Linked DNA regions of Homo sapiens: all the other regions are linked to region 1. Evidence: fine-mapped expression QTL. A gene starts in region 1. Each other region holds a variant in brackets. All regions are shown on one strand. Distances are between the middles of the regions.

Evidence for each region. PIP is the estimated chance that this variant, and not a neighbour inherited with it, causes the effect.
Region 2: its variant is fine-mapped to the expression of RUFY3 in whole blood (TOPMed, PIP above 0.99). The same link has a PIP of 0.9 or more in NK cells and monocytes.
Region 3: its variant is fine-mapped to the expression of RUFY3 in subcutaneous fat (TwinsUK, PIP 0.95).

What each region holds. Positions count from the first base shown.
Region 1 is chr4:70,715,756-70,726,823 of GRCh38, reverse strand. It overlaps RUFY3 (RUN and FYVE domain containing 3), which reads right to left and starts at 4,860. Exons shown (of 18, transcript NM_001037442.4): 1 at 4,073-4,860. The coding sequence starts at 4,250.
Region 2 is chr4:70,801,770-70,812,837 of GRCh38, reverse strand. It overlaps RUFY3 (RUN and FYVE domain containing 3), which reads right to left. Exons shown (of 18, transcript NM_001037442.4): 16 at 9,855-9,882; 17 at 8,422-8,490; 18 at 4,219-6,322. The coding sequence ends at 6,179. LOC124900900 (small nucleolar RNA U13) reads right to left here and starts at 592; the gene lies at 492-592. The variant T/C (reference allele first, on the strand shown) is at 5,902.
Region 3 is chr4:71,146,257-71,154,256 of GRCh38, reverse strand. It overlaps a transcript of SLC4A4 not described here. Among named protein-coding and RNA genes, the nearest start is that of SLC4A4, 37 kb to the left of the region's middle. The variant C/T (reference allele first, on the strand shown) is at 4,545.

The DNA.
Region 1 (11,068 bases):
CTTTTATCTTCACCCCCGCCTTTCCATGTGAGGATTCCAACTCTTAATGTAAATTAGGGTACAGACTTAAGCCAGGATATGTAATCTGGAAAAGTATAAATCTGATTAATGCTTCTGTGGGGCGGGTAGAAGGCTCAACTGAAAGAGTAATGGGCGGGGCACGGTGGCTCACGCCTGTAATCCCAGCACTCTGGGAAGCTGAGGCGGGCGATCACCTGAGGTCGGGAGTTCGAGACCAGCCTGACCAACATGGAGAAACCCTGTCTCTGCTAAAAATACAAAATTAGCTGGGCGTGGTGGCGCATGCCTGTAATCCCAGCTACTTGGGGAGTCTGGAGAGTCTGAGTTAAGGAGAATTGCTTGAACCTGGGAGGTGGAGGTTGCAGTGAACTGAGATAGCGCCATTGCACTCCAGCCTGGGCAATAAGAGCGAAACTGTCTCAAAAAAAAGAAAAAAAAGAGTGATGGTAGTGCTTTTGTTAGTCACAATCTATTAAGCATCAACAACTCAAATGTTCTCTTCCTTCTATATTCCCTACTGGTAAAGGGAACCTAGCTTCTGCAGCCAGAAGTTGGAGAGTCATCCCAGGCACTGCCTTATGTTCATTCTCCAGCCACCCAGCCCCTCAGTCATCGGGTACATTCTGCTTTTCCAGGGATTGTTCCTTTGGTGTTCACTCTTGCTACCTTAATGTGAGATTGTCATCTCTTACCCAGACCATTTTAAAAGTTATAGTTAGGGGTCCCTGAGAGCTTATATCCTTCTGATCCATTCACTACACTGTTGCCAGAGTGATCATTCCAAACACAAATCTTATTTTATGTTACTCCCAGACATAAAGCACCAGTAGCTTTTCACTACAGAATCAAGTGCAGGCTTTTCAGTATGAATAAGATTTCTACAGTCAAGCCCCTGCTTATCTTTCCAGTCTTGCTCCCTGTTGTGCCAAACAGAAGCCCTCTGTGCTCCTGTTGCTATTCCCTGGCTGGGCCAGCTCACTGTGTACTGTTTGAAATGCCCTCCCTATGTCGGTCTGGTGATCACCTGTTTATCTCTTAAGGTCTCACTTAATGAAGCCTCTCCTGACCCTTCTCCTGTGGAGTCAATCACAGGCTCTTGCCTTTAGGGGAAATCTATTTGCAATTAAACTTGTTGTAGATTTGCTGTTGGCTTTTGAAAATAAGAGTATATAAGCCGGGCATGGTGGCTCACACCTGTAATCCCAGCACTTTGGGAGGTCAAGGAGGGTGTATCACCTGAGGTTGGGAGTTCGAGACCAGCCTGATCAACATGCAAAAACCCCGTCTCTACTAAAAATACAAAAATTAGCTGGGTGTGGTGGCGCATGCCTGTAATCCCAGCTATTTGGGAGGCTGAGGCAGGAGAATCGCTTGAACCCGGTAGGCAGAGTTTTCAGTGAGCCAAGATTGCGCCATTGCACTCCAGCCTGGGCAATAAGAACAAAACTCTGTCTCAAAAAAAAAAAAAAGAGTATATAAGACAAAAGAGAGATAATCCCTCATTGACCACCAATAAGCATTGAGATAATGAAGTGAATGCTTTTATTTTCATTTATTTAAGGGTTAAAGTAGGCAGAAACTCTAGGTCCAGGCCTATACTGCGGACTGCTCAGTGAAGGGCCAGGAACTCTGGTTTTAAGAAAATAAAATATGGAAGCCACAGAGCCTCTATTGCTGAGTACACACAGTCAGTCTACATCATTTTAAGAGGGAACATTATGCTGTTTGCCTATTTTCTTTTGTGGGAGTGAGGAGACTTCACTCTAGGATTTGGGTGGTCAGATGTTTTTCCCTCTGTGAATCAGCCCGGAAAGCAGTCTGAATACTCCCGCGTCCAGACATCAGGAGTTCCATTTTGTGAACAAGGTGAGATTCACATAATCATGGGCCTGGTGACCACCACTTAAATGCTTATAGCTAAATTAAATCTAATAACTATCAGTGGTATTAACATAAAAGTGGGTATTTCTTGGGACCAAATGACTGTTTAAATATCCAGAGTTTGGTAATGGAGCAAGGCAGTAATACTCACAGGCTTTCATGGGACTATGCTTTCTTTATTTTCATTTCTAGTAATTTAAAATAATAGCTTTCTTGCCCAATTTAAGGCAAAATTCTAAAATGCACTGTCGGCATTTCTCTATTTTCTTCCAAATCCTCTATAGTTGATTACAGGTCTTGGAAACTCTGTATTTATCTGATTTCTTTAATCAGCAGACATACAATTTATTACTTAGATTATAGCTCTCACACATTTTCCATACTGAGAAATGTGTTGCTACAGATTTCTCTATGAAGAATTCAAATGGCGCTGCTAAAAACGCTTACATGAACCAAACAGCTCACTTTTGCTTATCCATAGGAATCCTGCTCCAAAAACATATATTTGAGGTGTTAAAATTGTTAAAAATTATTTTTGAGACACTGGTAAACTAGATTTCATGATAAAGGGAATATTTCATATTGTATAACTCTCAAATTGGACGGGAATACATTTTTTTCAAACAAAATATGTAAACTGAGGCAGTTGCCAGAAGACTTCTTGGTAGCCTTCTAAAACTGTATTTTTCTTCCCTAAAGACTTTTAAAGCTTTGGAGGCTGTTTTAAGTAGTACTGGAATTGTTGGATGTAACGATGTTTTGATGAAAATATAGAATAAAATAATAATAAAAAATAAATAGTACTGGCATTGCATGGAATTTCAGCTGATGTCTTATAACTTGTGCACATAACGAAACATACAGCCAAAGAAAGCTGTCTAATTAACAAACCAATTGTTAAAAGATGCAAAGGGTCTTAAAAACCACTTAAACATTGTTCTTAAAGACACACCCAAAATGACTGCTTTGTGTTCTGTGTTATTAACCATCCCTAAAACTTTCTCAAGGCTAAGGCTGACTGGGAAGATAAAATGCTTATCAAACACAATGGGAAAATTCTGAGTCATGATAAGATTTCAACTCAAGGTCAAAGGCAGAGAATCACCTTTCCTAACCCCATCTGCTAGGTACAATTCACCTATGGTCTTCTTTGTCCTGTCGATGTGCCTAACTATCAGGCAGATGTTTATAAAGAATTTCTCCTCATATGCAAGCGTTTTTTGTTTTTTTTCATCAGTATAAGGACAGAGAATAAACCTTAGCTAAGAAGCAACTGTATTAAAAACAAAACGATTTGTAGCTATGATTCAAATCAGCTCTCTTTCTGTGGTATTAAGAGAATTAAAGGGTAGAAGCAGAAAACCTCTCATAAATTAGCAAGAGTCCTGGAAAAAAGTCGCAAGTCAAGAGACCACAAAGATCTCAGAGGTACTGACAGTGGAAATCTCAAATGGATCATAATAGTTACCACAAATAATTTATAAAAAGCAATGGCCAATAGATTCCAATATTACCATTCTATTGTAATCTATAGGGATGCCATATTAATCATATTTAACCTTTCCAGGCATTATGCTTTCTTAGGAGTCCATATTCAATAAATAAATGCTGAAAAGTTATTTTCTCATCTAACCTAATAATCCATATTGTTAAAAAAATGTTTTATCAAACATTTCCTAGATGTCATAACTTGCTTAAAATTGTATCCTCATATAATGGTGAGGATACCATTACCAAATACCCTGGTGTTTCTACTGTATTCATCATGTACAATCCTATAATTATAGTCATGTTGTCTTAACTTAGTGTTATAAATCACTACAATTTCTATAACATTTTCATATATGAACAAAATTAATAGCTTTCTCATTATTGAATAGAATCAGATGTGATAAGTGACCTCAAATGTTTTATTTAGAGGCTTAAAGACAAAGAACTCTAAACGAGTATCCAGCATCTTTTGAAAGGATACCTAAAGGGGCAAGAAAAAAAATTATCTTTCCCCCATGAGCAAGAGAAGGGGAGCTGGGTGGTAAGTAAGGATGCAAGGTTTTCAGGACTGTTAACAGTTGAGAGTGTAGGTTCTTTCTACCTCTCCCTGATCCTCCCAGCCCTCCCCCATAACAATGAGGATGCTGGTGAAATACTAGCGGACAGGATCTGACCATACCTTCATGGGTAGGCTCTGGGTCAGGTGTAAGTGAGATGTCATCCAGCTCTCGCAGGCAGAGCCATTCTCCATCCATGGACACTCGGAATTTGCAAAGGTAGATGGTCTCCATGGCAGCCTGTGTGATCTTGTCAGTGGTGGGGGTTGGCATATCGGTCGGAGGCGTCAGAGCAGACATGATGACTCAGCTGGGACCACAACACACACACAGACACACACACACTCACACACACACACCAAAAAAATAAATACAACCTCCTCACCAAAAAAACCCAATACAAAGCTCTGAAACAAAGCTTTCAGGAAAAGGGTGGGGGAGGTTTAAAAAAAAAAAAAAGGAAAAATACCTTATAGGTTAAGAACAAACTGCTCAAGATAAACAATTCTACACTATCTTATAGACAGTTCCTACCACATAGCAAAATAAGATGATGCTTGTCTTCTCCCAGCTTCCTCTCCTTTTATCTTCCCTTCCCTGCCCCCCACCTTTTTTTTCAGCTGAGCTATAGGCTTTAAATCCCGCACAGCTGATGCTGCCTTAGCTGGCTTTAAAAATCTGGCCTCGATATGAGTAAGTGAAAAATCCTCCTCCTTTGTGCAGAAAAAAAATATAAAAGAAAAACCTGAACAAAAAATAAACCTATATTTTCAATGTAGCTTAAAAAAAAAATCCTGAGCTGCAGAAATCACTTCCAGGATCTGCTCAGATGAGCTGGGATGCTGAGTTCTCATAGGATTGGCCGTGCGCAGTAAGCAGGGTGTTGACCAAAATGGCTGACTAATGAACTGAACTGAAAATTCAGGCTCATGTGACCAGCTGCTCTGAACGTAGGGCAAGCAATTCCCAGGATGCTTTATAGATGCTGCTGATGCTGGGAGAGCAATTAGGCTTCTCTCTCTCATCCTGTACAACCCACTTCCAGACTGTGCTAGTCAAACTGTGATCAGACATAACACAATGCACATATCCTCATCAATTCTTCTTACTTTGGGATCAAGGACTGAATAAAAGGATGACAATTAATACCGGATAATAATCTATAGTAAAGATGGTAAAAGAGGCAGTTAGATTAATTTAACAAGCATATAATTCACCTCTTTCATTCTTATCTACATAGCTATTAAAATTCTTTACTATGCTAAATGTTATGTTTTAAGAAAAGCTAAAGCATAAAAAATTGAGGTTCTCAGAGGGAAAAAAAACAAAAAGATAAAAAGAAAAGCTAAAGTAGATTTTCAATTTAAATATCTTATTCTTGGGCATTTATAATTTCCTTCTCCAAGGTACAAAAACCTGACCTTTTAGGTTAGGCAGAAATGCAAAAAAAAAACTTCAAGTTAAAAAAGTAAAATCTTTCCCAATTAATGGCAATTTCCCCCCTTTTTGATTTTGTTGTATTTATCAAGTTTCTGTATTAAGCATAAAATACGTTTCTTTTTTTTTCTTTTTTCTTTTTTGAGACAGAGTCTTGCTCTGTAGCCCAGGCTGGAGTGCAGTGGCGTGATCTCAGCTCCCAGGTCCAAGCAATTCTCTGCCTCAGCCTCCCGAGTAGCTGGGATTACAGGCACCCACCACCACGCCCAGCTAATTTTTGTATTTTTAGTAGAGACGGGGTTTCACCATCTTGGCCAGGCTGGTCTTGAACTTCTGACCTCATGATCCTCCCACCTCAGCCTCCCAAAGTGCTGGGATTACAGGCGTGAGCCACCATGCCCAGCCTTAAGCATGAAATATGTTTCTAAGCAGATTAAACCATGTTATATTTTTAAAATCCTCCCATTCGATAAGATACTGAAGACAATTATATTTTCTTAATACACACACACACACACACACACACACACACACACACACACACACACGGCCCTATATTATCCAATGAGGCATTTATACCTTGGTAGCAAAAGGGCAGGTACTTGCTTTATGAACTACATAAATTACAAAGAGAAGAATAAGAATTTTCTTTGAAAATGTTTTGGACAATTGAAAGAAAGTGTTTGTTTGTTTTTGTATTGAAGGGTTCCAATTTTAAGGAGGAACATACAAATTCAAGAAATATGACCTGAGACTATTCCTTTCTAGGGATTGTTATCAGAGGGACATCTTGATTTACCTAATTTCTGAAAACTAAAAAAATTCTCCTTGAATATTGTTAAAATCTCAAATGCTTCATCATAATTTGAGACTGAACTGAAAGAAAAAAATGCTAATAATCAAATTCTGTAGAGAAACTGGCATTTTCATATTGTTACGAAGACAGGGCGGATGGCTGGGCGCGGTGGCTCATGCCTATAATACCAGCACTTTGGGAGGCCAAGGCGGGCAAATCACCTGAGGTCAGGAGTTCGAGACCAGCCTGGCCAACATGGTGAAACCTCATCTCTACTAAAAATACAAAAATTAGTCAGATGTGGTGGCATGTGCCTGTAATCCCAGCACTTTGGGAGGCTGAGGCAGGTGAATGGCTTGAGCTCAGGAGTTTGAAACCAGCCTGGGCAACATGGCAAAACTCCATCTCTACAAAAACAAAAATTAGCAAGGTATGGTTGCGCGCACATGTGGTCCTAGCTACTTGGGAGACTGAGGTGGAAGAATCACGTGAGGCCAGGAGGCAGAGGCTGCAGTGAGCCGAGATCATACCACTGCACTCTACCCTGTCTCAAAATAAAAAAAAGAAGGAGGGTATACTGGTACAATGTAAGAAGGCATATATATAGGCTTATTTATAATTGGGGAAAATCAGTAAGTTACTAAGGAAAGCAAAATACTCCTGGTTTTATTTCTATCTCATTCTCTCTCATCATTACCCTACATCTAGACTCAGAGCCATTCATTCATTCATTCATTCAACAGATATTCACTAAGAGGTGCTCCACATGCCAGGTAGTGATCCAGGCACTAGGCACGCAGCAGTAAGACAGAAACACCTTTTCCAGGAAACAGAATTTTCATATCCAAATACTGAACACAAGCCTTCATTTAACACATTCTCATTTAATTCAGTTCAATTCCTTTCTAGCCAAAAATATTCCCATATTATATATTAATAAGGGGACAGTTTATAGATTCACTTTATATCATGCAATACTTCAAAACATAGTAAGTAGTCATTAAAACCTTCAAATTACATGGGACATTCCTGGAACCACAACTCCAAACAGCCCTAGCTATCTGTATGTGTGATATCAAAACTCTAGATCACTGATATGTTCTTAAAACAGAACAAGGAATACATGAATAAATCCGAATGCCATGTGATTGTCTGGGGTCCAAAACCTGAATTTGGCCTTGTCACAAACCACAACAATCTCTTCACCCCAGTAAGCATTTACTAACTTGAACAGATCTAGATTGATTGCAACATACCAACACAACAGGAACATCAAGGTTAGTGAGCAAGAAACTTGATTAACATTCCTTCGGAAGATCCATCCCACCCTGCCTCTCTCCAGGTAGAGGACACAGAGAGGCAAGCCCAAAACAACTAAAGTTTTTGGCAAGGAAAGAAAAACATGCCTGTATTGGTATCCTTGAATTTCCCAGATCTACCAGTTTGAGGTGTTGGCAGCCATTTCAGAAATAAGACCCGGGGGTGGGCAAGAAAAACTGTACTTCTACGCTGTTCTTTAGGTAAACACCATTGAGTCTTCAGCACGAACAGTTATCCATTGTTCACAGGCAAAGAAGTTACTATGAAAACAGTGCTATTTGTAGAAACTTATAAAAACAATTCTACGGCCGGGCACGGTGGCTCATGCCTGTCATCCCAGTACTGTGGGAGGCTGAGGCAGGCGGGTCACCTGAAGTCGGGAGTTCAAGACCAGCCTGACCAACATGGAGAAACGCCATCTTTACTAAAAATACAAAATTAGCTGGGCGTGGTGGCACATGCCTGTAATCTGCTACTCTGGAGGCTGAGGCAGGAGAATCGCTTGAACCTGGGAGGCGGGGGTTGCAGTGAGGTGAGATTGCACCACTGCACTCCAGCCTGTGAAACTCCGTCTCAAAGAAAAAAAAAAAAGATTTTAGATATTGCTTAGTACCGTTTTTACATTTTGGTCTTTACTAAGTAAACATCTTAGCTTTGAATATGAAGTTAAAGTTAAGCCATCAGTAAGATATTCAAACCTTGATTTTTTTTCTCACATACAGAGTAATTACTGTATGAGCTGTATTGAACTATTTTCTCATTTGATCCCATTTGTGAGTAATGGCACCTATTTGTAAGATGGTTGTGAGGCGGGTGGGAGTTCAGTCTGTGGCCCTAAAAGAATAGGCCTGTGTGAAGTTCAAATCCAAAATGAAGATCCAAAAAATACTACGTTCTAGCTGCTTAAACAGTCTGTATTTTCCACATTATGATGGATTCAAAGCAAATAAGAGTCACACTTCAAAGTCAGAAGTTACATTCCTCTTAAAGGATATTTGTACTCGGCTGCTACTATAAGACAAAGGTTAACTTGACAGGCTCAATGTCTCTGTTATATATTGTGGAAAAATTACCTAAAATAGCTATCATTTATTAAATTTCTATTTTCTGTTAGGTGCTTTACAAATGCCATGTAAAGGGCTGGGTGCGGTGGCTCACGCCTGTAATCCCAGCACTTTGGGAGGCCGAGGCAGGTAGATCACGAGGTCAGGAGATTGAGACCATCCTGGCTAACACGGTGAAACCCCGTCTCTACTAAAAATACAAAAAAATTAGCTGGGCATGGTGGTGGGTGCCTGTAATCCCAGCTACTCAGGAGGCTGAGGCAGGAGAATGGCGTGAACCCGGGAGGCGGAGGTTGCAGTAAGCCAAGATCGCGCCACTGCACTCCAGCCTGGGCAACAGTGTAAGACTCTGTCTCAAAAAAAAAAAAAAAAAAAAAAAAAAATACCATGTCAAGTCTTCACAAAAGCACTGCAAAACAGAGATTGATACCTTCTCTTTATACACAATGAAACCAAAGTTCAGCCACGTAACTGGCCCAGAATCACACAATTAGCGAGTAGCAGATCTGTTACTCCAAGCTACTTCTGTCTAGATACCTCCAAAGTCCATGTTCCTTCTACACTCTGCAACTTCAGCACTCTATCCTAACTCTTCCTCATCCCCGGATGTTAAATTTTATTCAGAGAAAATAAAAAGACATTTAAAACACACACACACAAACACACACACACACACGCAAAGTCTCTTCATGAAATTTCCTAAAGATGAGTTTCAACAAATTTAAGATTTGAAGAAATTTTTTTTATCAGCCTCCATACTTTACACCTTAATGCTGCACAACCCATACCTTCCTCTAGGCCCCCCAACTTACATATTAAGTTCAGGCTTTTAGTAAGTGGGCACATTCTGACAAACTGAGAACCCAGTATGGACTTTTCTGTCATGGGCTCACAAAGGGTAGATAAAATGCTTCCACTATGTACTTGGTTCACCCTACTACCACTCTGTCTCTGAGTTCCCTCCACATTTACATACTAGTTGGACACATTAAGAACACCTGATAAATTCCAAAATAGAAAAAGATAAATGAAGGGGGGAATCACTTTCTAAAATGATGCATTGTACGCTTTTTAAAAATAGCAAACTTAATGTATAATTTTAAGTCCTTAAAGAATATAACCAATATCCCTGAAACCCTTGCTCAACTGGAGAAATGGACCAACATATGTACTTATGTGCTCCTTCTTGCTTCTAAACTCCTGCCTCTCATTTCAAGGTAACCTTCTGAATTTCGTGTAAATCATTATCTTATTTCAAAAATATTGTCACAAATATATGAAGGTCTAAGCAATATGTTTAGTTTCAGTTTTTTTCAACTTTCTTATAGAAAGTGTTTCATGCTCTATAAAACTTTCTAAGCCTTTCACTCAATGCGTATTTTTTCTTTTCTTTTCTTTTTTTTTTTTTTTTGAGACAGAGTTTTGTTCTTGTCATACAGGCTGGAGTGCAGTGGCATGATCTTGGCTCACTGCAACCTGTCCCCTCCCAGGTTCAAGCAATTCTCCTGTCTCAGACTCCCGAGTAGCTGGGATTACAGGCACCTGCCACCATGCCCAGCTAATTTTTGTATTTTTAGTAGAGATGGGGTTTCACCATCTTGGCCAGGCTGGTCTTGAATTCCTGAACTCAGGTGATCTGCCCATCTCGGCCTCCTAAAGTGCTGGAATTACAGGCATGAGCCACCGCACCTGGCCTTCAATGCTGTATTTTCTAAGATTCATCCAAACCGTAGTGTGCATATGTAGTTTATCCTTTTGGCTGCTGTATTACAAGGTAGTGTTCCAATGCATGTACAAAAAATTTCTGATTCGGCAGGGCGCGGCGGCTCACGTCTGTAATCCCAGCACTTCGGGAGGCTGAGGCAGGTGGACCACTTGAGGTCAGGAGATCAAGTCCTGCCTGGCCAACATGGTGAAACCCCGTCTCTAGTAAAAATACAAAAATTAGCCAGGCAATGTGGTACGTGCCTGTAATCCCAGCTACTCAGGGGACTGAAGCAGGAGAATTGCTTGAAGCCAGGAGGCGGAGGTTACAGTGAGCCGACGTCATGCCACCACACTCCAGCCTGGGCAAGAGAGAGAGACTCCGTCTCAAAAAAACAATAACAAAAACACATTCTGATTTATTTTCTTTTTTTTTTTTGAGATGGAGTCTCACTCTGTCACCCAGGCTGGAGTGCAGTGGCACGATCTCGGCTCATTGCAACCTCCACCTGCCGGGTTCAAGTGATTCTCCTGCCTCAGCCTCCCAAGTAGCTGGGACTACAGGTGTATGCCATTCATGCCTGGCTAATTTTTTATATTTTTAGTACAGATGGGGTTTCACCAGGTTAGCCAGGATGGTCTTGATCTCCTGACCTCGTGATCTGCCCGCCTTGGCCTCCCAAAGTGCTGGGATTACAGGCATTGGCCACTGTGCCTGGTCTTCTGATTCATTTTCATGTTGGTAGGCATCTGGGTTATTTCTGATTTTCATAATGCAGAATAGAAACTTCTTCCTA
Region 2 (11,068 bases), 86 kb before region 1:
ATGGTGACACCCCATCTCTACTAAAAATACAAAAAATTAGCCGGGCATGGTGATGCGTGCCTGTAATCCTAGCTACTAAGGAGGCTGAGGCAGGAGAATTGCTCGAACCCGGGAGGCAGAGGTTGCAGTGAGCCGAGATTGCGCCATTGCACTCCAGCCTGGGCGACAGAGTGACACTCCATCTCAAAAAAAAAACAAAGTTTTAGATCTACAGAGACATTGCAAAAAGAGTACAGAGTTCCTGTATACGCCTCACCCACCTGTATACCTATTGTTAGTATCCTACATTACTGCAGGATATTTGTCACAACTAAGGAACCAAATTTGATACATTACTATTAACTAAATCCCACAGTTCAGATCTTTAGTTTTTTTCCAAATATTATTTTCATTCCAGGATCCCACAATTACATTCAGTTATGTCTCTTTAACCACCTCAGATGTTTTTGTTTTTAATGACTTCAGATTCCCAACCTTTTTAACTTTTTTCACGTCAGATGGGTAATGTCCTGATGTAACAAGGTGTGAAGGAGGCACATCTCACACAGAAGTGTGAAAGCCCAGTCGTCACGCTTATGAACTACAGAAGGATCCCAGACTTGTTTTTGATGACCATGACAGTGTTAAGGGGTACTAGCTGGTTTTGTAGAATGTTCGTAAGGTGAGGTTTTCTGATTGTTTTCCTTCTGGTCTTAGGAGGAAGACCACAAAGGGGCATTTTCATCACATCAAGGGTGCATATTTTTAATAGGGCTTATCACTCATTATATTAATACAAATTTTGATCACCTGGCCAAGATAGTGTTTGCCAGGTTACTATAAATTTTTTTTCTTCTTTACATATTGTACTCTTAAAGCAAGTTACTAAGCACAATCCATACTCGAAAGGTGGAGAGTTAAGCTCTATCTCCTTGAAGTGGTGAGGGGCGGGGGGTATCTACATAATTATTTGGGCTTTTTCTGTATAGGAGAGATGCTACCGCTCCATCAGGTCATATACACACATGGACTCATGGGTACTTACTTTATCCTTTGGGTTATAATCCTAAGGTGCATTATTTACTTTGTTGCTGAGATTTGTTTCATCTTTGGCCATTGGGCATTCTATCAGTTGGCTCCTGTGTCCCTTTCACATGCCTACATCCTTGTTTGTGGAACACTTCTTTACTTTCTGGCACTACAAGATGCCCTAGACCCAGAATCAGCCATTTCTCTAGGGAGCCCTGATTCCTTTTCTTGGAGAATGGTATTAGAAAACAAGATCTGGGCATTGGATGTACCCGTTGCTGCTGGCATGTCTGCTGCTAGGCCCTCTCAGTGAACAGAGATATATGCCTGTGTAATAACCCAAATAGACACACATAATTGTAATTACTTTCTGAATCCTTCCGGAAAACACAATTTTTTTTAAACTAGTAAAATATACATAAAACTTGCTGTTTTAACCATTTGTAAGCGTACATTTCTGTGGCATTAAGTGCATTCACATTGCTGTGCAACCATTACCACCATCTGTCACCAGAATTTTTCATCTTCCTCCAACACAAACTGTACCTATTAAACACTGACTCCCCATTCTGCTCTTCCTTAAGCCCCTGGGAACCATCATTTTACTTTATGCTTTGACTATTCTAGGTACTTAGTGTAAATGGAGTCATACAATATTTGTCCTATGTATGACTGGCTTATTTCACTTATCATGTCCTTAAGTTTCATCTATGTTGTAGCATGTGTCAGAATTTGTTCTTAAAGCTGAATAATATTCAATCGTATGCATATACCAAATTTTGTTTACCCATTCATCCATTGATGGATACCTGGGTTGTCTCTACCTTTCAGCTATTTTGAATAATAGGGCTGTAAACACTGGTGTACAAGTATCTGTATAAGTTCCTGCTTTGAATTCTTTGGGGTATATACCCAGAAATGGATTTGCTGGATTATATATGCTAATTGTTTTTTTTTCTTTTTTAAGAAATCACCATACTGCTGTACCATTTTACATTCCCACCAACTGTATACATGGGTTCCAGCTTCTCTATGTCCTTGTCAACACTTGTTCTGCTTTTTTGATAATAGCCACCTTAATAGGTTTATAAAGTGGTATCTCATTGTGGTTTTGATTTGTACACTTCCCCAGTGATTACTGATGTTGAGCTTTTCTGTACTTATTGGACATTTCTATATCTTTTTGCAAGAAGTGTCTATTCAAGTACTTTGCTCATTTTTTTCAGGCTTTTTATTGTTGCAGGATTTATTTGCAAATGTTTTCGCCCATTCCTTGGGTTGCCTTTTCATTCTGCTGATAGTGTCCCTTGATGCACAAATTTTTAATTTTGCTGAAGTCCAATCTGTTTTTCCTTTTGTTGCCTGTGCTTTTGGTCATACCCAGGAAATTACTGCTAAATCCAATGTCATGAAGCTTTTCCATTTTTTTTTTTCTTTTTGAGATTGAAAAAAAAGACAGGCTGCTTTTTTCTGTCTTTTCTTGCTCCGTCGCTCAGGCTGGAGTACAATAGCGCAATCGCGGCTCACTACAACCTCCGCCTCCCACATTCACGCAATTCTCCTGCCTCAGCCGCCTGAGTAGCTGGGATTACAGGTGCCCACCACCACACCTGGCTAATTTTTGTATTTTTAGTAGAGACGGGGTTTCACCATGTTGGCCAGGCTGGTCTCCAACTCCTGACCTCAGGTGATACACCTGCCTCGGCCTCCCAAAGTGCTGGGATTGCAGGCATGCACCACCACACGGGGCCAATAATTCTTTTTCTTCTTTTTTAAAGAGTTTAATGATTCTAGCTCTCTTTTTTCTTCCAACCTTAGTGGATGGAGCTAGTTCTTGATGGATTTTAAGTTAATATTTGTATATGGTGTAAGGGTCCAACTTTTTTTTGTATGTAGATATCCAGTTTTCCCAACACCATTTGTTGAAAGGACCCTATTTTCTCCACTGAATGGTCTTGGCACCCCTGTCAAAAATCTGACTATATGTGTAAAGATTTACTTCTAGGCTCTTTATTCTATTCCATTGGTTTATATGCTAATTTTTATGCCAGTACCATACTGTTGGTTACTGTAGTTTTGTGTTAAATTTTGAGATCAGTAAGTGAAGACTTCCAACTTTGTTCTTTTTCAAGATTATTTTGAGTATCGGGGGGGGGGGTCTCTTGACATTCTGTATGAATTTTAGGATTGATTTTTCTATTTCTGCAGAAATGTTGGGATTTTCATAGGGACTATTGAATCTGTAGATTACTCTGGGTAGTATTGACATCTTAACAATATTTATTAAGTCTTTGACTCCATGAAAATATGATACTTTTTTTTCTTGGCCTCCCAAAGTGCTGGGATTACAGGTGCGGGCCACCGTGCCTGGTGAAAAACATACTTTTATGTCTTCATTTTGTATGGCAACATTTTGAAGTTTTCAATGTACAAGTCTTTGCCTCTTTGGTTCAGTTTATACTATTGTAAATGGTGAAAAGCACAATTGTAAAGGAAGACAGATAGGCATACCATTAAGTCAAGGTATTCATGACTTGGTCTCCTTGCTTTTATGGGAGGCTGCACTGTAACTAAAGATCTTTGGGACGTTGTAAATTTTTTTTTTTTTTTTGAGATGGAATCTCACTCTGTTGCCCAGGCAGAAGTGCAGTGGTGTGATCTCGGCTCACTGCAACCTCCGTCCTGGGTTCAAATGATTCTCCTGTTTCAGCCTCCCCAGTAGCTGGGATTACAGGTGCACACCACCACACCTGGCTAATTTTTGCATTTACTTATTTATTTAGTTAGTTAGTTAATTTATTTTAGTGGAGATGGGGCTTCACCACATTGGCCGGGTTGGTCTCGAACTCCTGACCTCACGTGATCTGCCTGCCTTGGCCTCCCAAAGTGCTGGGATTACAGATGTGAGCCACCGCGCCCAGCCTAAATTTTTTTAAGGCTAATATTTATGTGTAATTCTAAGTAAAGTATCAAGTGACTGTTCCTCCTTATATTGTGTTACAAAGATCTTTTCAAATTAATTTAAAATTAGTTATAAAATAACTTTCTAATTTAGGGCAACACTCCTGTAGTCCATTTTTGTGCCCCACATCATGTATAGCACCTAAAAGAGTGCTAGCTCATGTAGGTGGCCAAAAAATGAGAGTGAAGATTCAAAAAAGAAATGTTGTTATTTAGGGTAAAAAAAAAGACAATCATCAATCAACAAACTAGGCTGGAATTACTAGATTTTATTTTTCCCCAGAACTCTTAAACTTCAGCTTCACCAAGTAACAGGCTGACTTTTGGAATAACAACTCTTTCCCAGGCTGTTGTTAACTCTTTCCAAGAGACAGAATTTATTAAAAAACATGGTTCCAGGATATTTCCACCCCAGAATTCTAAATCAGTCACAGAATCATACCTTCTTAGGTCTTGATTAGAATGAAACAATCTATAGACACACGTAACAGAATCAAAATATTATGTAATGTTTTTTGCCTTCTCTTGCTCAATACACTTCCCTCTTTTCCCCCAAAGAGTTTGTTACTCAAAGATAGATAGATATGTAAGTAAGTACAGTCAGCCCTCCATATCCATGGGTTCTGCATCCATGGCTTCAACCAACTGCCAATCAAAAATATTCAGAAAAAGAAAAATTCCACAAAGTTCCAAAAAAGCAAAACTTGAATTTACTGAACACCAAGCACTATGTTGAATCCATGCAAATGAAGTGATGTGTAGGTATTTTATTAGGTATAAGTAATCATCTTCAGATGATTTAAAGTACACAGGAGGATGTATGTAGGTTATATGCAAATACCATATAACCCATTCTCTATAATGGGACTTGAGCACCCATGGATTCTGATATCAAGTTGGGTTCCTGGAACCAATCCCCCATGGATACCAAGGGATGACTGTATTGCCCTTTTCAAGAAAGCATCTATCAGCTCTCATTCGTGACTCACTCAGAATAAGGAATTCCTTATTCAAAAAACAATGTAAGTATTCCGAGCTAACTGTTCTCAGCCATGAACAAATTAAACTTGGCCAGGTGTGGTGGCTCATGCCTGTAATCTCGGCACTGTGGAAGTCAAGGTGGGAGGACTGCTTAAGCCCAGGAGTTTGAGACCAGGCTGAGCAACCAATGAGACCCCCTCCCCGGCCAAAAAAAAAAAAAAAAAGCCAGTCCCAGCTACTTGGGAGGCTAAGGTGGGAAGATTGCTTGAGGCCCGGGAGAACAGGGATTCAGTGAGCTGTGATTGCACTACTGCCCTCCAGCTTGTGCAACAGAGCAAGACCCTGTCTTAAGAAAACAAATTAAACTTATTTTACTCTATATTTGACTTTGCTTTAATCAATATCTTCTATTTGCAAAAGCCAAACCCTATTTTTAAAACTCCTTACAATTTCCATTATGACTTGGAAAGGAAGATGGAGGGAATGGGGAAGAGTTGGCTTGTTTTGTGGAAGGAGATTCTGAAAAGGGCAGTTATTTACTTTGAAGTCATAAAGTAGAAAAACAAATGTTCTTTTTTTTGATAATGAAAACCCTTGTAGGTAAAGACCAGAAAATTCTGGTCCTGAAATTATAACATATTACAATATTGTTTTTAATATATGCAGAATTTATATTACTTTTTAATTTCTTTTCCCTGAGATTGGGTTCACAGTTTGGTAGAAATACTTTAAAGAGGTAGTTAGCAGGGGTGAAGAGGAAACAATGTTTATACTAACAGCACCTGGAAAAATAAGTAACAACTGTCATTTTGATCTCAGCATCTACCTCTCCCCCTTGAATCTGCAAATGCTATAGAAGGAGATGATCATTTTCCTTTTTATTCTTATCTGCCTGGATTCTCTCTCCTATTAAATCCACCCCAGTATCACTAATCATAAAAATGAGTTGCC[T/C]TTCCAAAGATATGCTATAAAGCAAACCTTCAATATCAGGTTGTTTAGATTTAGAAGAGAAAGGCTCAAGTAAGTTCACTTTTATTCATACAGTCATTAGAGAAAATGAGCAAAATTTCCAGTAACCCCAACCACTGCCTTTTCTCCCTGGACCTAGTAAATTCCTATCAACTCTTTAGTTGACTCTAAGAACTGGGCTCTATGAGATCCTGACAGCTAAAACACAGGTACAGAGGAGCCTGCATAAACGTTTTGGTCCAGGTCTTGGCCTCCAGTCTTATGATGGGCTGGTAGAATATTGCTTCATCAGATGCTTGTGACAGGGATTGCAAACTCGCTCAAGCTTGATACTTGAAGGAAGAGGCAGTTCATTTGTTGAACAGGCATCACAGAAGGTTCCGCTGCAGTTCTTACACACATTCTATGAGAAGAGGAGGTTAGGCGGGGAATAGAAGATGAGCAAGGCATAAGGATTCATGGGATATAAAAAGCCAAATATGGCAAATGCTCAATGCCTAATCAAACAATGACTGAATGTTTACTATGTGCCAGGTAGTATCTGAACACAGGCCCAATCTACAAAAAAGTTCACCGTCTAGTTTTTAGATTTAAATGAAAAGAAGCAGTGCCATAGAGTTAAAAATAAAAACAGGTAACATACAAGTCACTTATCTTTAGAATATCCTTCACACATCTGTTCCCCATACTCACTTTGAGGTAGGTTAGTTTTAAAATTAGTTTGCAAGTACCTGCGCATACTCCAAATAAGGCAGTGAAAGAGCAATGGATTGAGTGAACAGGCTAAGATTTAAAAATGTCCAGAGTATGAACTGAAAGTATAATTCCTAATAAATACACTGATGTGCTTTATGCTTTCCTGTGGTCTCTGGTGCTCTGTAAGCACATCCACTGGGTTATCAATGCAGCAGGAGCACAGCTTCCTGCATCTTGTTCATAGGGAAATTATTTTGTTTTCCTAAATGTTTTGCATCTTTAATGGTCAAGCACAGAGAGCAAGAAGTCACTATAGCAATGTCAGCAGTAAGGCTGTGATAGGGTGGTATACACAAAGCTCCAAGGGTCCTATATAAAAAGCTGTAAAGAATAATTTCTCCCATGAAGTGCTACCTTCATCCCAAATAATTCATCTTCCTGAGGTTGAGAGGAGTAGGGGGTTGCTTTTATCTGAAAGCCTAAGAAGAATTTTTGTCTGACATACAGAAGCTAATATTGCATGGCTTAGAAGAGGAAAGCCAGAATTAACAGTTTGTTCTACTTTGTAACATATTTCTATAATTGTAACTTCCAGTTCTATAAGGGCAGTTCATTTGTTATCTGATTCTGTGAATTTAAGACTAGGTCATATTATAATTTATTAAAATTTTGCATGATCACAGATGGTGCTATGCAGGTTGTGATCCAGAATTTGAGCCTGTTTCCTGTATCTCTTCCAAGCATGTGTTTCATACACTCATTTGTACATAACTTTTCTTGAGGATCTACTATGGATTGGGTACCATATTAGATGCTGGGGGATTCTGTGAACAAGACACAGTTCCAGCTATCAAGGGCACTCATTCTTTCTGAATACTTCCTTAACTCTGCCTACTCTAGGATAACAAACTGGGAAGATGCTCAGGCAGGCACCCTTGAGGATCGGGTGGAAAACAAGTGGTCTAGCAGGGAGAGCTCATATCCTGTTCTGAGCAGGATAAAGTGCTGAAAGGACTGTGGACTTTGGAGCGAAAGCTAGGTTGGAAGCTGGGCTTCATCACTTATGACTTAATTTTGGGAAATGTAGTTAGCATTAGATGTTCAACGTTCTTCATCTATAAAATGACAGCTATGAAGGACATAAGCTTGACAAGAACAGAGACTTGGTCTACTTTGTTCATTACTCTTTCTCCAGCACATTCTACACAGCAGGCACTCAATATTTACTTATACATTTCTATCTGCTTATTTGCTTTATTACATAATTATTTTTGTTTGTTTATTTATTTACTTATTTTTAGACAGAGTCTCGCTCTGTTGCCCAGGCTGGAGTGCAATGGTGTGATCTTGGCTCACTGCAACCTCCGCCTCCCGGGTTCAAGCGATTCTCCTGCCTCAGCAACCTGAGTAGCTGGGATTACAGGCCACCACGCCCGGCTATTTTTTTTTTTTTTTTTTTTTGTATTTTTAGTACAGACGGGGTTTTACCATGTTGATCAGGCTGGTCTTGAACTCCTGACCTTGTGATCGGCCCGCCTCGGCCTCCCAAAATGCTGGGATTACAGGCGTGAGTCACCGCGCCTGGCTATTTATGTTTATTTTAATGGGAATTTTCTGACATGAATTATTATGACTGAAAAAACAGGTACCCAGTAAATGCTTGCCCCTTTTGCTTTTCACCCCACTCCCAGCACTCTGCATGCACTCTGCACTCTATGCGGGAAAGTCCCTGTTACTCCTGGGGAGGGACTGGGGGCTGCTGTAGACATCCCTATGAAAAGCCTGTCCGTTTCTCATCACAGTTACCTTTGTTAGGCTGCCGTCTTCCTGGCATAGCTGACACAACTGTGGCTTTTCAGAGAGCAGCAGCTGATCCTAAACCACACAGGGAGCTGGTTAGTTTTTCTTAGTGCCAGAAATATTAGTACTTTCAGAATATGCATTTTTTACCTACAATATTAATATAATCACACTATAGACTATCTGGAAACTAAACCAATTATAAATAGGTAGTCCTACCACCATAATACAACTCGGATAATCCTATCATTATGCTTCCAGCTCTTAATTTTTATAATAACATGATTTCTAAAAAGAAAATTCAAACACATGCAAGTATAGAGTAAAAAGTTTTAACACTATCCCATTCCTCTTGTTCACTCTACCATCAAGAATGGAAAGCACTGGGGACTGGGCCTGGTGGCTCACGCCTGTAATGCCAGCACTTTGGGAGGCCAAGGCAGGTAGATCACTTGAGGTCAGGAGTTCAAGACCAGCCTGGCCAACATGGCAAAACTCCATCTCTACCAAAAATATATATATTAAAAAAAAAAAAAGTTGGACATGGTGGTGGGCGCCTGTAATCCCAGCTACTCGGGAGGCTGAGGCAGGGGAATCACTTGAACCTGGGAGGCGGAGGTTGCAGTGAGCTGAGATTGTGCCACAACACTCCACCCTGGGTGACAGAGTGAGACTCTGTCTCAAAAAAAAAAGGAAAAAAAGAATGGCAAGCATAGGGCATGGAAGCTCACACCTGTAATCCCAGCACTTTGGGAGGCCAAGGCGGGAAGATCACTTGAGCCCAGGAGTTTGAGACCAGCCTGGGCAACACGGTGAAACCTAATCTCTGCAGCCCTAGCTACTCGGGAGGCAGAAGTGGGAGGACTGCCTAAGCTCGGGAAGTTGAGGCTTCAGTGAGCTGAGATCGTCCACTGCACCCCAGCTTGGGCAATGTGAGTAAGACCTTATCTCCATTTAAAAAAAAAAAAAGGAAAGCAGTAGGACTTATTTTATTTTATAACCTAAGAGGTAAATGACAGGGTGACTCAGACACAGTAGCATTCACTGTCTTTCTCATGGGCTTATCATATACTATTAGATTAACAAAGTGTTTTACAATCATTTATGTTAGCTTATTTCTAAGTGATCAAAACATCTTTTTTCTCTCCATTTTATGTAAGGAAAAACTAGAGGAAAGGGACATAAAGTGAGCTCTCCTAGATCTTATGTCAGGGATAATTTAAAATAGGTGAGAACTGATGTTTACTTAGTAAACTGCTCAAAGCTGTGCTACTTCCTGTGTGAGCTTCAGGCAATACATATTTGTTCAGGGTATTGTTAGAAGGATGGCACACTGTATTCACTCATCTTCCGCCCATGCTACCTTATTTGCTGGCTAGGCACGGTACAACCAACTTCATAATTCATACAAGATGTTTTGAAACAGGAGGCTCTGTTACCTGTTCATCCATAGGGTGGGGTTGCAGCCTACAATGGAGAAGTAAAAAATTGTGACAAATAGGAACTTCATGTATTTTCATTTATATCATTTCAATAAAAAGCTCAGAATACAAACATTTTTTTCAAACAAGAAATACTGTAGGTCTTTTATATTACTTAGAACAACATAATTATTAATTTTGACCTCCAAGGAGAGGAAACTTTGCTTCTTAAAATGAATCACTAGAATCTGACCCTTGACTTATTATATAAGGGTTCCCATTTAAAAATAGATTTGAAGTTATATTTTACATTCCTTTTTGCTATCAAAATAGTTAGCATTTATGTTTCCCAATGTGTAAAACTCCAATGGTTCACTGGCCATATATTTTAGTAGCTTTTTTTCTATTTGATATTATGGAAATCTATCCATTATCCATTATCACATGTTGTGTATCAGTCCCAAATATTCTTAAGATGTGAGCTTTAGCAAATTAACCCAAGAAGGGGAAATGAATGAGACTGTCACCAGAAAACCCATTCAGGTTGAAATATTTCTTCATGAGGGACTAAGCTGAGCTAACTCCGATGTTCCAGCATGGACTAGAGCCTAAATGAGAGGTGAAGCAAAGCCCGCTCTCGGTTACAGGGAAAATGCACTACAGATTGCAATGGTTCTTATTCTTTTCACTTGAGTAGCAGTGTGACCACCAGACATACACCATGGGGTGACCAGGTTTTCCGATGTTCCTTGCCATCATAATCCCAGGAAGCCTGGTATGTCTAACGATTGCAGCTATGGCCAGAATAAGTCCTGGAAGTTGCTAATAGGTAGTGCAGAGCCAAAGGACTTAAAAACAGTAGACATGATAAACAGAGGCAACTTGGATAAGTCACCCAGCCTCTCTGCTTCTCAGTTTTCTCATCTGTAAAGTTGCATTAGGTACTTTTGTAAGGAATACTGAATCATAAGGAGATAATAAATGTGAAACAAATTCTAAGTTGCAGAGCACAATTCAGATATAAGGAAGCACTGTTCCATATTCTCAGGACCTAAATCAGAAGTTGGCATTTAAGACACTCCTGGTTGCTCAAGTAAATGATTTGATTTTAGTTTGGAACGAGGCTGACCCTGAAAGGCACCTGGAAGCCCAGGTTAATTTTATGGCCCTTCTAGTTCCCTTCTCTTTGCTTATGCCATTCTGTAATGTGAGATGGGTGATAGTTTAAAGTT
Region 3 (8,000 bases), 430 kb before region 1:
ACCTTCATAATACCAAGCCTTTGAAGAGCCATAGCCATAAGCTCATTTCCAGGAAGATAGAAAGGTTATCAAGTCTGTAGAGGCAAAGCTCCTTGAACAAATGCAAACCCTTGTCAGTGACCCTCACATTGGCTGTTTTCAAGCCCTGATGACCAGCATAGACCTTTTAGAGGTCACCTCTCCTGAAAGGAACTCCCCAATCATAATCTACTCCAAATCCGCATATGTCTTGAATTATGGTAGGTCTGAACAAACATCCAAGACTGTATGACATTGTTTTGTTCACCTCACTGCCTCATCACTCTCTCCTGTGTGCTAGACTAGACTGGTGGCTACTGATGCTCCTGCATCACATACTGATGACCCTGATTATGTGCTTCCAGCCCACTGGTGACAAGAACAAGGGCGTGGAGTAGAGGGTCAATAAGAGGCATTGAGAGAGAATGAGTAGAAGTCCTAAAACATTTCCATCTGTCTCTTTACTGGCTACTAATCGGTGAAGTAGACAGCGAGTCTGGCCTTTTGCTTGTAAGGTGTAGTGTAGATAATGAAATATTTTATTTCTAACAAAGACGAAGAAAAAAAACCAAGACATATTGAGTGCCTACTATGTACCATGCCAAGTGCTGAAGGCTTTACATGTGTTATTTCATTTAATCTTCACACTACTCTCTGAAAAAAAGTTTTAGAACCCTTCATTTTACTGATGAAGGAAGTGAAGCTCAATGAGGTTAACTAACGACTAGCCAATGGCCAGAGACATCTAACAGGAGGAGAGCTGGGTTTCAAAACCAGGTCTGTCTTTTCGTCACTCCCTAGTACTTCCAGGAAGCCAGTTGTGATGATTAATACTGAGCGTCAACTTGATTGGATTGAAGGATGCAAAGTATTGATCCTGGGTGTGTCGGTAAGGGTGTTGCCAAAGGAGATTAACATTCAAGTCAGTGGGCTGGGAAAGGCAGACCCACCCTTAACGTGGGTGGGCACCATTTAATCAGCTGCCAGCTTGTTTAAAATATAAAGCCTAGCCTCCCAGCCTACATCTTTCTCCTGTACTGGATGCTTCCTGCCCTCAAACATCAGACTCCAGGTTCTTCAGTTTTGGGACTCGGACTGGCTCTCCTTGCTCCTCAGCCTGCAGATGGCCTATTGCAGGACCATGTGATCATGTGAGTTAATACTTAATAAACTTCCTTTTATTTTTATATATATATATATATATACACACACATATATTTATATATATACACATATATATTTATATATACACATATATATTTACATATATATACACACACACACATATATATAGGATATATATATGTGATATATACCAGTCCTTTTCATCCAAAATGACACTTTCCTGAGGATAAAATAATTCTTCCTTTTATTTAGTGAATGAGCAAATGGAGAGTATTATGCAGTATAGAGATGAGGGGAGAAATGAAGGTGAAATAAGCATAGAAAAAAGATCAAAGAAAGTGGGCTGGGAAAGGCAGACCCATCCTTAACCTGGGTGGGCACCATTGGGTAAATATTTTAGGAATCTGATGCACATGTGCGTCAAGAGATGTGTAAGAATGTCCTTTAACCTGAGGAAGCTGATTGGAAAAAAATAGTGTGTCCATAGTACCTCAGGTCATAATAGTGAAAGAAATAATGCAGAGAACCCAAATGCCCATTAAGAGTAAAACCAGTAAATAAATTGCTGCATATACTCAAACAATGGATTATTATACAGATATGAAAACGATGAGCTACATGTGCACATATTAACATGAATTATTCTCAAAAACATAATCTCGAGTGAAAGAACTAAGTCTCATAGAATAACATTTCAAGTGAAAGAATCCCCCAAATGTAATGTTGAGCCAAAAAAGCAAGTCATAGAAAAATGTACACAGCATGATTCCACATATGTAAAGTTCAAAAATGGGCAAAAATATATGTTGTATTATTTAGAGATAAGCATATATGTAATAAAGGTATTAAAGATCAGAGGAAATATTAACACAAAATTTAGAATAATGGTTACCACTTGGTGAGAAGGGAATACAGAAGGAGAGACGTACAGAAAACATGTAATGTAGGAGTAGTCTTCTAGGTCTTTAGCTAGCTGATAAGAATGTAAGTATACTTTATATTATTTTCTTAAATTATTTATAGATACACATTATATATACCCTTTCTATATATTTAAAGTTCTTAAACTTTTCTGAAAGAAAATTTTTTTTTGAGAGGGTTTTGCTCTGTCACCCAGGTTGGAGTACAGTGGCATGATCATGGCTCACTGTAGTCCCAATACCTGGGACTACAGGTGTACACCACCACACCTCTAATAAAAATTTTTGTATTTTTAGTAGAGATGGGGTTTTACCATGTTGGCCAGGCTGGTCTCAATCTCCTGACCTCAAGTGATTTGCCCTCCTTGGCTTCCCAAAGTGCTGGGATTACAGGCATGAGTCACCGTGCCCGGCCTTAATTTTTTTTTTTTTTTTTTAGTAGAAATGGGATCTCCCTATGTTGCCCAAGCTAGCCTTGAACTCCCGGGGTCAAGTGATCCTCCCGCCTCAGCCCTCCAAAATGCTGGGATTACAGGTGTGAGCCACCATGCGCAGACAGGAAATATTTTTTACGTATAAAAATATACACAAGAATATGCAGAAGAGAGAAAAGGCCTAAAAAGTTGATGAAAAAGAATAAACAGAGGAAAGAACAGATGGTGTTAAAAAACAGTAAATAAGTAGAGGTAAAAATGACATTAAATGTCATTAAAGGTAAAAATGACAAAGGCTATGTCAGAGAGAGAAAATGAAGACTTCATCAGAGATCACCTTGGACCATCAGAAGAGGTCAGCAGGTCAGCAGAACCAGAGAAATGCACTGAATTAGTTCCTTCAGGCCAGTACTCTAAAGAAGTAGGGCAAAACCTACCGTTGATATAGTCTATATGTCATTAAAATGAGTAAGATGTTTGTTATTAGGAATACATGTTTAAGTTAAACACACAACAAATGTTAGTCATTGGAAGAGGTTGGCAGCAAACCAGTAGACGCAGTCTACCAGTGCTGTGGCACAGAACATTCTGTGATGTTGGAAATGTTCTAAATATTCACCATCCATGTGGCAATTTAATATTTGAATTGTAGCTAATGTGACCAAAGCACTGAAATTTTAATTTGATTTAAATTACTTTAAAATTAAATATAAACAGCCACATGGGGCTAGTGGCTACTGTATTGAACAGCACAGGATATTTTCATGTCCTCACAATTAGAAATGAAAATCATGCAAGAACAATTTGAGGCATGGTCTTTCAAATAGCAAACTATTTCTTCCCCAACATACCTGATTGAACCATAACTCTTCTACAAACATCCCCAGATTCCAGACCTTTGAGCGCATAGAAGTAAAATATAAGAAAAATGCAGAGAGCTAATGGAAAGGGGAAGGGAGGCCATAGAGAGATAGTGGTCCCAGAACACTTGGCAACTTAAGGACCGCAAGCTGCCAAAGGTGAATTCGGGTCACAAATCCCAAGCGCTCTCACCTGCACTTCTCCCATTTCCATCTCTGCACACTTATATGAAGAGTTTGCTAGTTGAATGCCTTGATGGAATAAAGCAAAGGATTTCATTTTTTAAATCATCTTTTCTGCTTGTCATGCTGAATGGCAGCACCTTTATAGCATTTTGCAAACTAAATTCACATTTCCATTTAGGTAACGCATTTAGTTGAGTCTTCATTTGCCTTCTGCTGACTAAAAAAGGCTCTGTATTTACTGGCTTAGTTCTCTCTCTGCACATGAGGGAATCAGGATATTTACATACCACTATTTCTGGCTGAAACCAAACCTTGGTTCCCAGAGGAAGGCAACTTGCAGACCATCTCCATTTATGAGAAGGGCATCTGTTTCCCTAACCACATCTTAACATATGGCTCTTGGTTCTCCCCAGAACCCAGTTGCTATTTCACCCATTCCACCTTCAGCCAAACCCAAATTTCTGTTTCCAGATACTCTGTTTCCCTAGGCAACATCAATGTGTACAGAAACTCACTGCTTGGACACTCCAAGGATTGTCAAGGCTCAACATTTATTTTTGTAACAATACCAAAGATTAATAACATATTTTCTTTTTCAGTCATAAAATTCAAGGGGTATTGAAGCATTAAAGATGGTTTTATGAACATATACTACAGATAAGTAATTATAAGCAGGTATATTCACATGTATATAAAAAACCTAATCGTGTACCCTTGAGCCTAAAATGAAAGCTTAAGTTTTTTAAAAAAATAAAGAACATTAGTTTTAAAAAAAGGAATTCACACTTAAGTTGATCAAAAATTAAGTTAAGCCAGATGGCTAATTGGATTTAGGGGCTCCATTTGATGAATCAAAAAATATTACCATTGTTGAAAGTAAGCCAATAAAACTCTGGCTCTGGCTGCATTTTCATGGTGATAAGAACAGAAAAGCCATTAGTAAACAGTGAATCTCATCCAAACCTATCAGCACAGTTGACAAAACTGGTTTCAAGTAAAGC[C/T]TCAGAAGGTAAAAGGAAAACATGGCCCTCCTTAAGCCCCCATTCATATTTGGAGCACAGAGCCCAACATGTGACTGATGCCTAACAAACATTTGTTGAACACATAAATGATGAGAAATAAAGTAGAAAGTGCCTCCTTACCTAAGAGGACTTGCAGAATTTCTTGCTCACACCTGAAAGTTGTTTAGAGCTCTCCTCTCCAGTTTGATCCAGTAGCTGAAGGAATTTAATCCTCTCACACCCAATGCTTTTAATATACAAAATTTATGACTTCCTGCTCCTTGATCAAGTAGAGCTGTGTCTTGTTTCTATAACCTTTTTTAATCAATGCCCCAAAATCATATCAGAAAGGAGCCCAGAAAAAGACTATCATTTGGAGGAAAGAATCTTCTTATAATTTTTTTTCTCTGTTGAATCTATTTTGGGGCCTTTACTTTTAAACCAATAATAATAATAATAATGAGTGCCTTCATGCCATCTTCTAAAAAATAATGAGAACATTCAAGAAAGAGAATCATGCCATTCTAATTAAACTCACTGAGTACACCTGGCTTCAACTACTTTGTTTAATGTCAGTTTCAAGACCTAAGGCTATTTCTAGAGAGGACCTTAGAAAATTAATTTCTTTGAATAGCTATTATTAAAAAGTCAAAAAATAATAGATGTTAGCAAGGTTGCAGAGAAAAAGGAATGCTTATACACTGTTGTTGGGAGTGTAAATTAATTCAACCATTGTGGAAGACACTGTGGCAATTCCTCAAAGACCAAAAGACAGAAATACCATTCAACCCAGCAATCCCCTTACTAGGTATATATGCAGAGAAAGATAAATCACTCTATTATAAAGACACAGGCATGCATATGTACACTATTCACAATAGTAAGGATATTGAATCAACACAAATGCCCATCAAGGGGTATTTAGAATAAAGGAAATGTGGTACACATACACTGTGGAATACTATGCAGCCATAAAAAAGAACAAGATCATGTCCTTTGCGGGAACATGGATGGAGCTGGAGGCCATTATCCTTGGCAAACCAACACAGTAACAGAAAACCAAATACCACATGCTCTCTTTTATAAGTGGAAGCTAAAGGATGAGAACACATGAATGCAAAGAAGGAAGCAACACACACTGGAGCTTATCAGAGAGTGGAGGATGAGAGGAAGGAGAGGATCAGAAAAAATAACTGTTGAGTACTAGGCTTAATACCCGGGTGACAAAATAATCTGTATGACAAACTCCCATGACACAAGTTTACCTATATAACAAACTTGCACATGTACCCCAACTTAAAAGTTAAATTAAAAAAAGAAAGAAAATTAATTTCTTTGGAAGGTTTGGAGATCCAGTTTCTTTTTAGACAGACCCAGGACTTGTTTCACAAGGTCCCAGAAGAGCTCGAGAGAGACCAGTGGGAAAAACTTTAGCCCAGAGAGATGTTGACTCAATATGAAGAAGAGCTTTCCAATTGTCAGAGCTGTCTCTAAAATTATAAATATCAGATGTGCTATCTCAGGAACTTGGAAGTTCCCTGTCACTGCTCAGGCAGAGGCCAGAAGCAGAGAAGAAAGATGGAACATAAGTCAGTAGTGGGGTCGGTGATCTTTAAAGTCCCTTGCAGTTGTAAGTTTCTATGATTCCATGAGTCTCCTCCTGGCATTCTGAAATAAGTTTGTGAATCTAGTCACTTACCTGAACTTTGGAGGGCAAGGAAGGACATGGAAGAAAACACTAAATCTTGCTCACTGGTCAGGCCCAGGACTTTCTTGAAACCAGCCCAGTTCCCTCTAGAGTCACAGCTTATGGAGTGTGCTCTGTCCTCCCTCGGGACAACCAGGCCAGACTAGTACATTTACCAGGCATGTGGAATTCAACCAAAACAAATTCAGCCTTATAAATCTGGTAAACAGCTATTTTTCTGGCAACAATGCAGATGGGTGGTGGCAATGCCCCCTCAGGACCCCTCCTCAGAAAGACCCTACCTGGACAACCGTGAGATCCTACTGATTTTAATTCTGTGTTCTGAAATGTGATGTTCCATGTCACAATGCTATAAATTAGCTTGATATTCTGACAAGTGAACCCCTGCTGTGATTAAATCAAGCCCCATTTCTTTCCTATTTCCTCCTTCTCCAACTGTACTCCATCATAGAGCACTGGCAGAAAAACCCAAGTCCTTGGTTCATCCAGGGGAGAAGTGCAAGGAGAAAGGAAGGAAAAGCATCACTGTGGTGTGTGGGTTGCTTCCCCACAGTTGATTTTGGAATTCATCTCTCTGACTGCCTATTACTCACTGACCATCATGAACCACCACCTCCAAGGAGAGTTGGGAAAAAGGCAGACAGAGGTGAGGAGGATGAAAAGAAGACAGGAAGAGCAGGGGAAGAGAGAAAAGGCAAACATAAAGGAGAAGGAAGAAAAATAAAGAAATTTAAGAGGAGAAATTTGAAAGGAGAGAAAGGGGAGGGCTTCTTGTTAAACAACAAAATTCATATAATTCCTAATCCCCTGTGTAATTCTCTCAAAAAAGAGAGAAAAGTTTGTTTACCATTATGTAATGGCCTTCTTTGTCTCTTTTGATCTTTCTTGGTTTAAAGTCTGTTTTATCTGAGACTAGGATTGCAACCCCTGCCTTTTTTTGTTTTCCATTTGCTTGGTAGATCTTCCTCCATCCCTTTATTTTGAGCCTATGTGTGTCTCTGCATGTGAGATGGGTTTCCTGAATACAGCACACTGATGGGTCTTGACTCTTTATCCAATTTGCCAGTCTGTGCCTTTTAATTGGAGCATTTAGCCCATTTACATTTAAGGTTAGTATTGTTATGTGTGAATTTGATCCTGTCATTATGATGTTAGCTGGTTATTTTGCTCATTAGTTGATGCAGTTTCTTCCTAGCCTTGATGGTCGTTACAGTTTGGCATGTTTTTGCAGTGGCTGGTACCAGTTGTTCCTTTCCATGTTTAGTGCTTCCTTCAGGAGCTCTTTTAGGGCAGGCCTGGTGGTTACATAATGGTAAAGGGATCAATTCAACAAGAAGAACTAACTATCCTAAATATATATGCACCCAATACAGGAGCACCCAGATTCATAAAGCAAGTCCTTAGTGACCTTCAAAGAGACTTAGACTCCCACACAATAATAATGGGAGACTTTAACACCCCACTGTCCACATTAGACAGGTGAACGAGACAGAAAGTTAACAAGGATATCCAGGAATTGAACTCAGCTCTGCACCAAGCGGACCTAATGGACATCTACAGATCTCTCCACCCCAAATCAACAGAATATACATTCTTTTCAGCACCACACCACACCTATTCCAAAATTGACCACATAGTTGGAAGTAAAGCACTCCTCAGCAAATGTAAAAGAACAGAAATTATAACAAACTGTCTCTCAGACCACAGTGCAATCAAACTAGAACTCAGAATTAAGAAACTCACTCAAA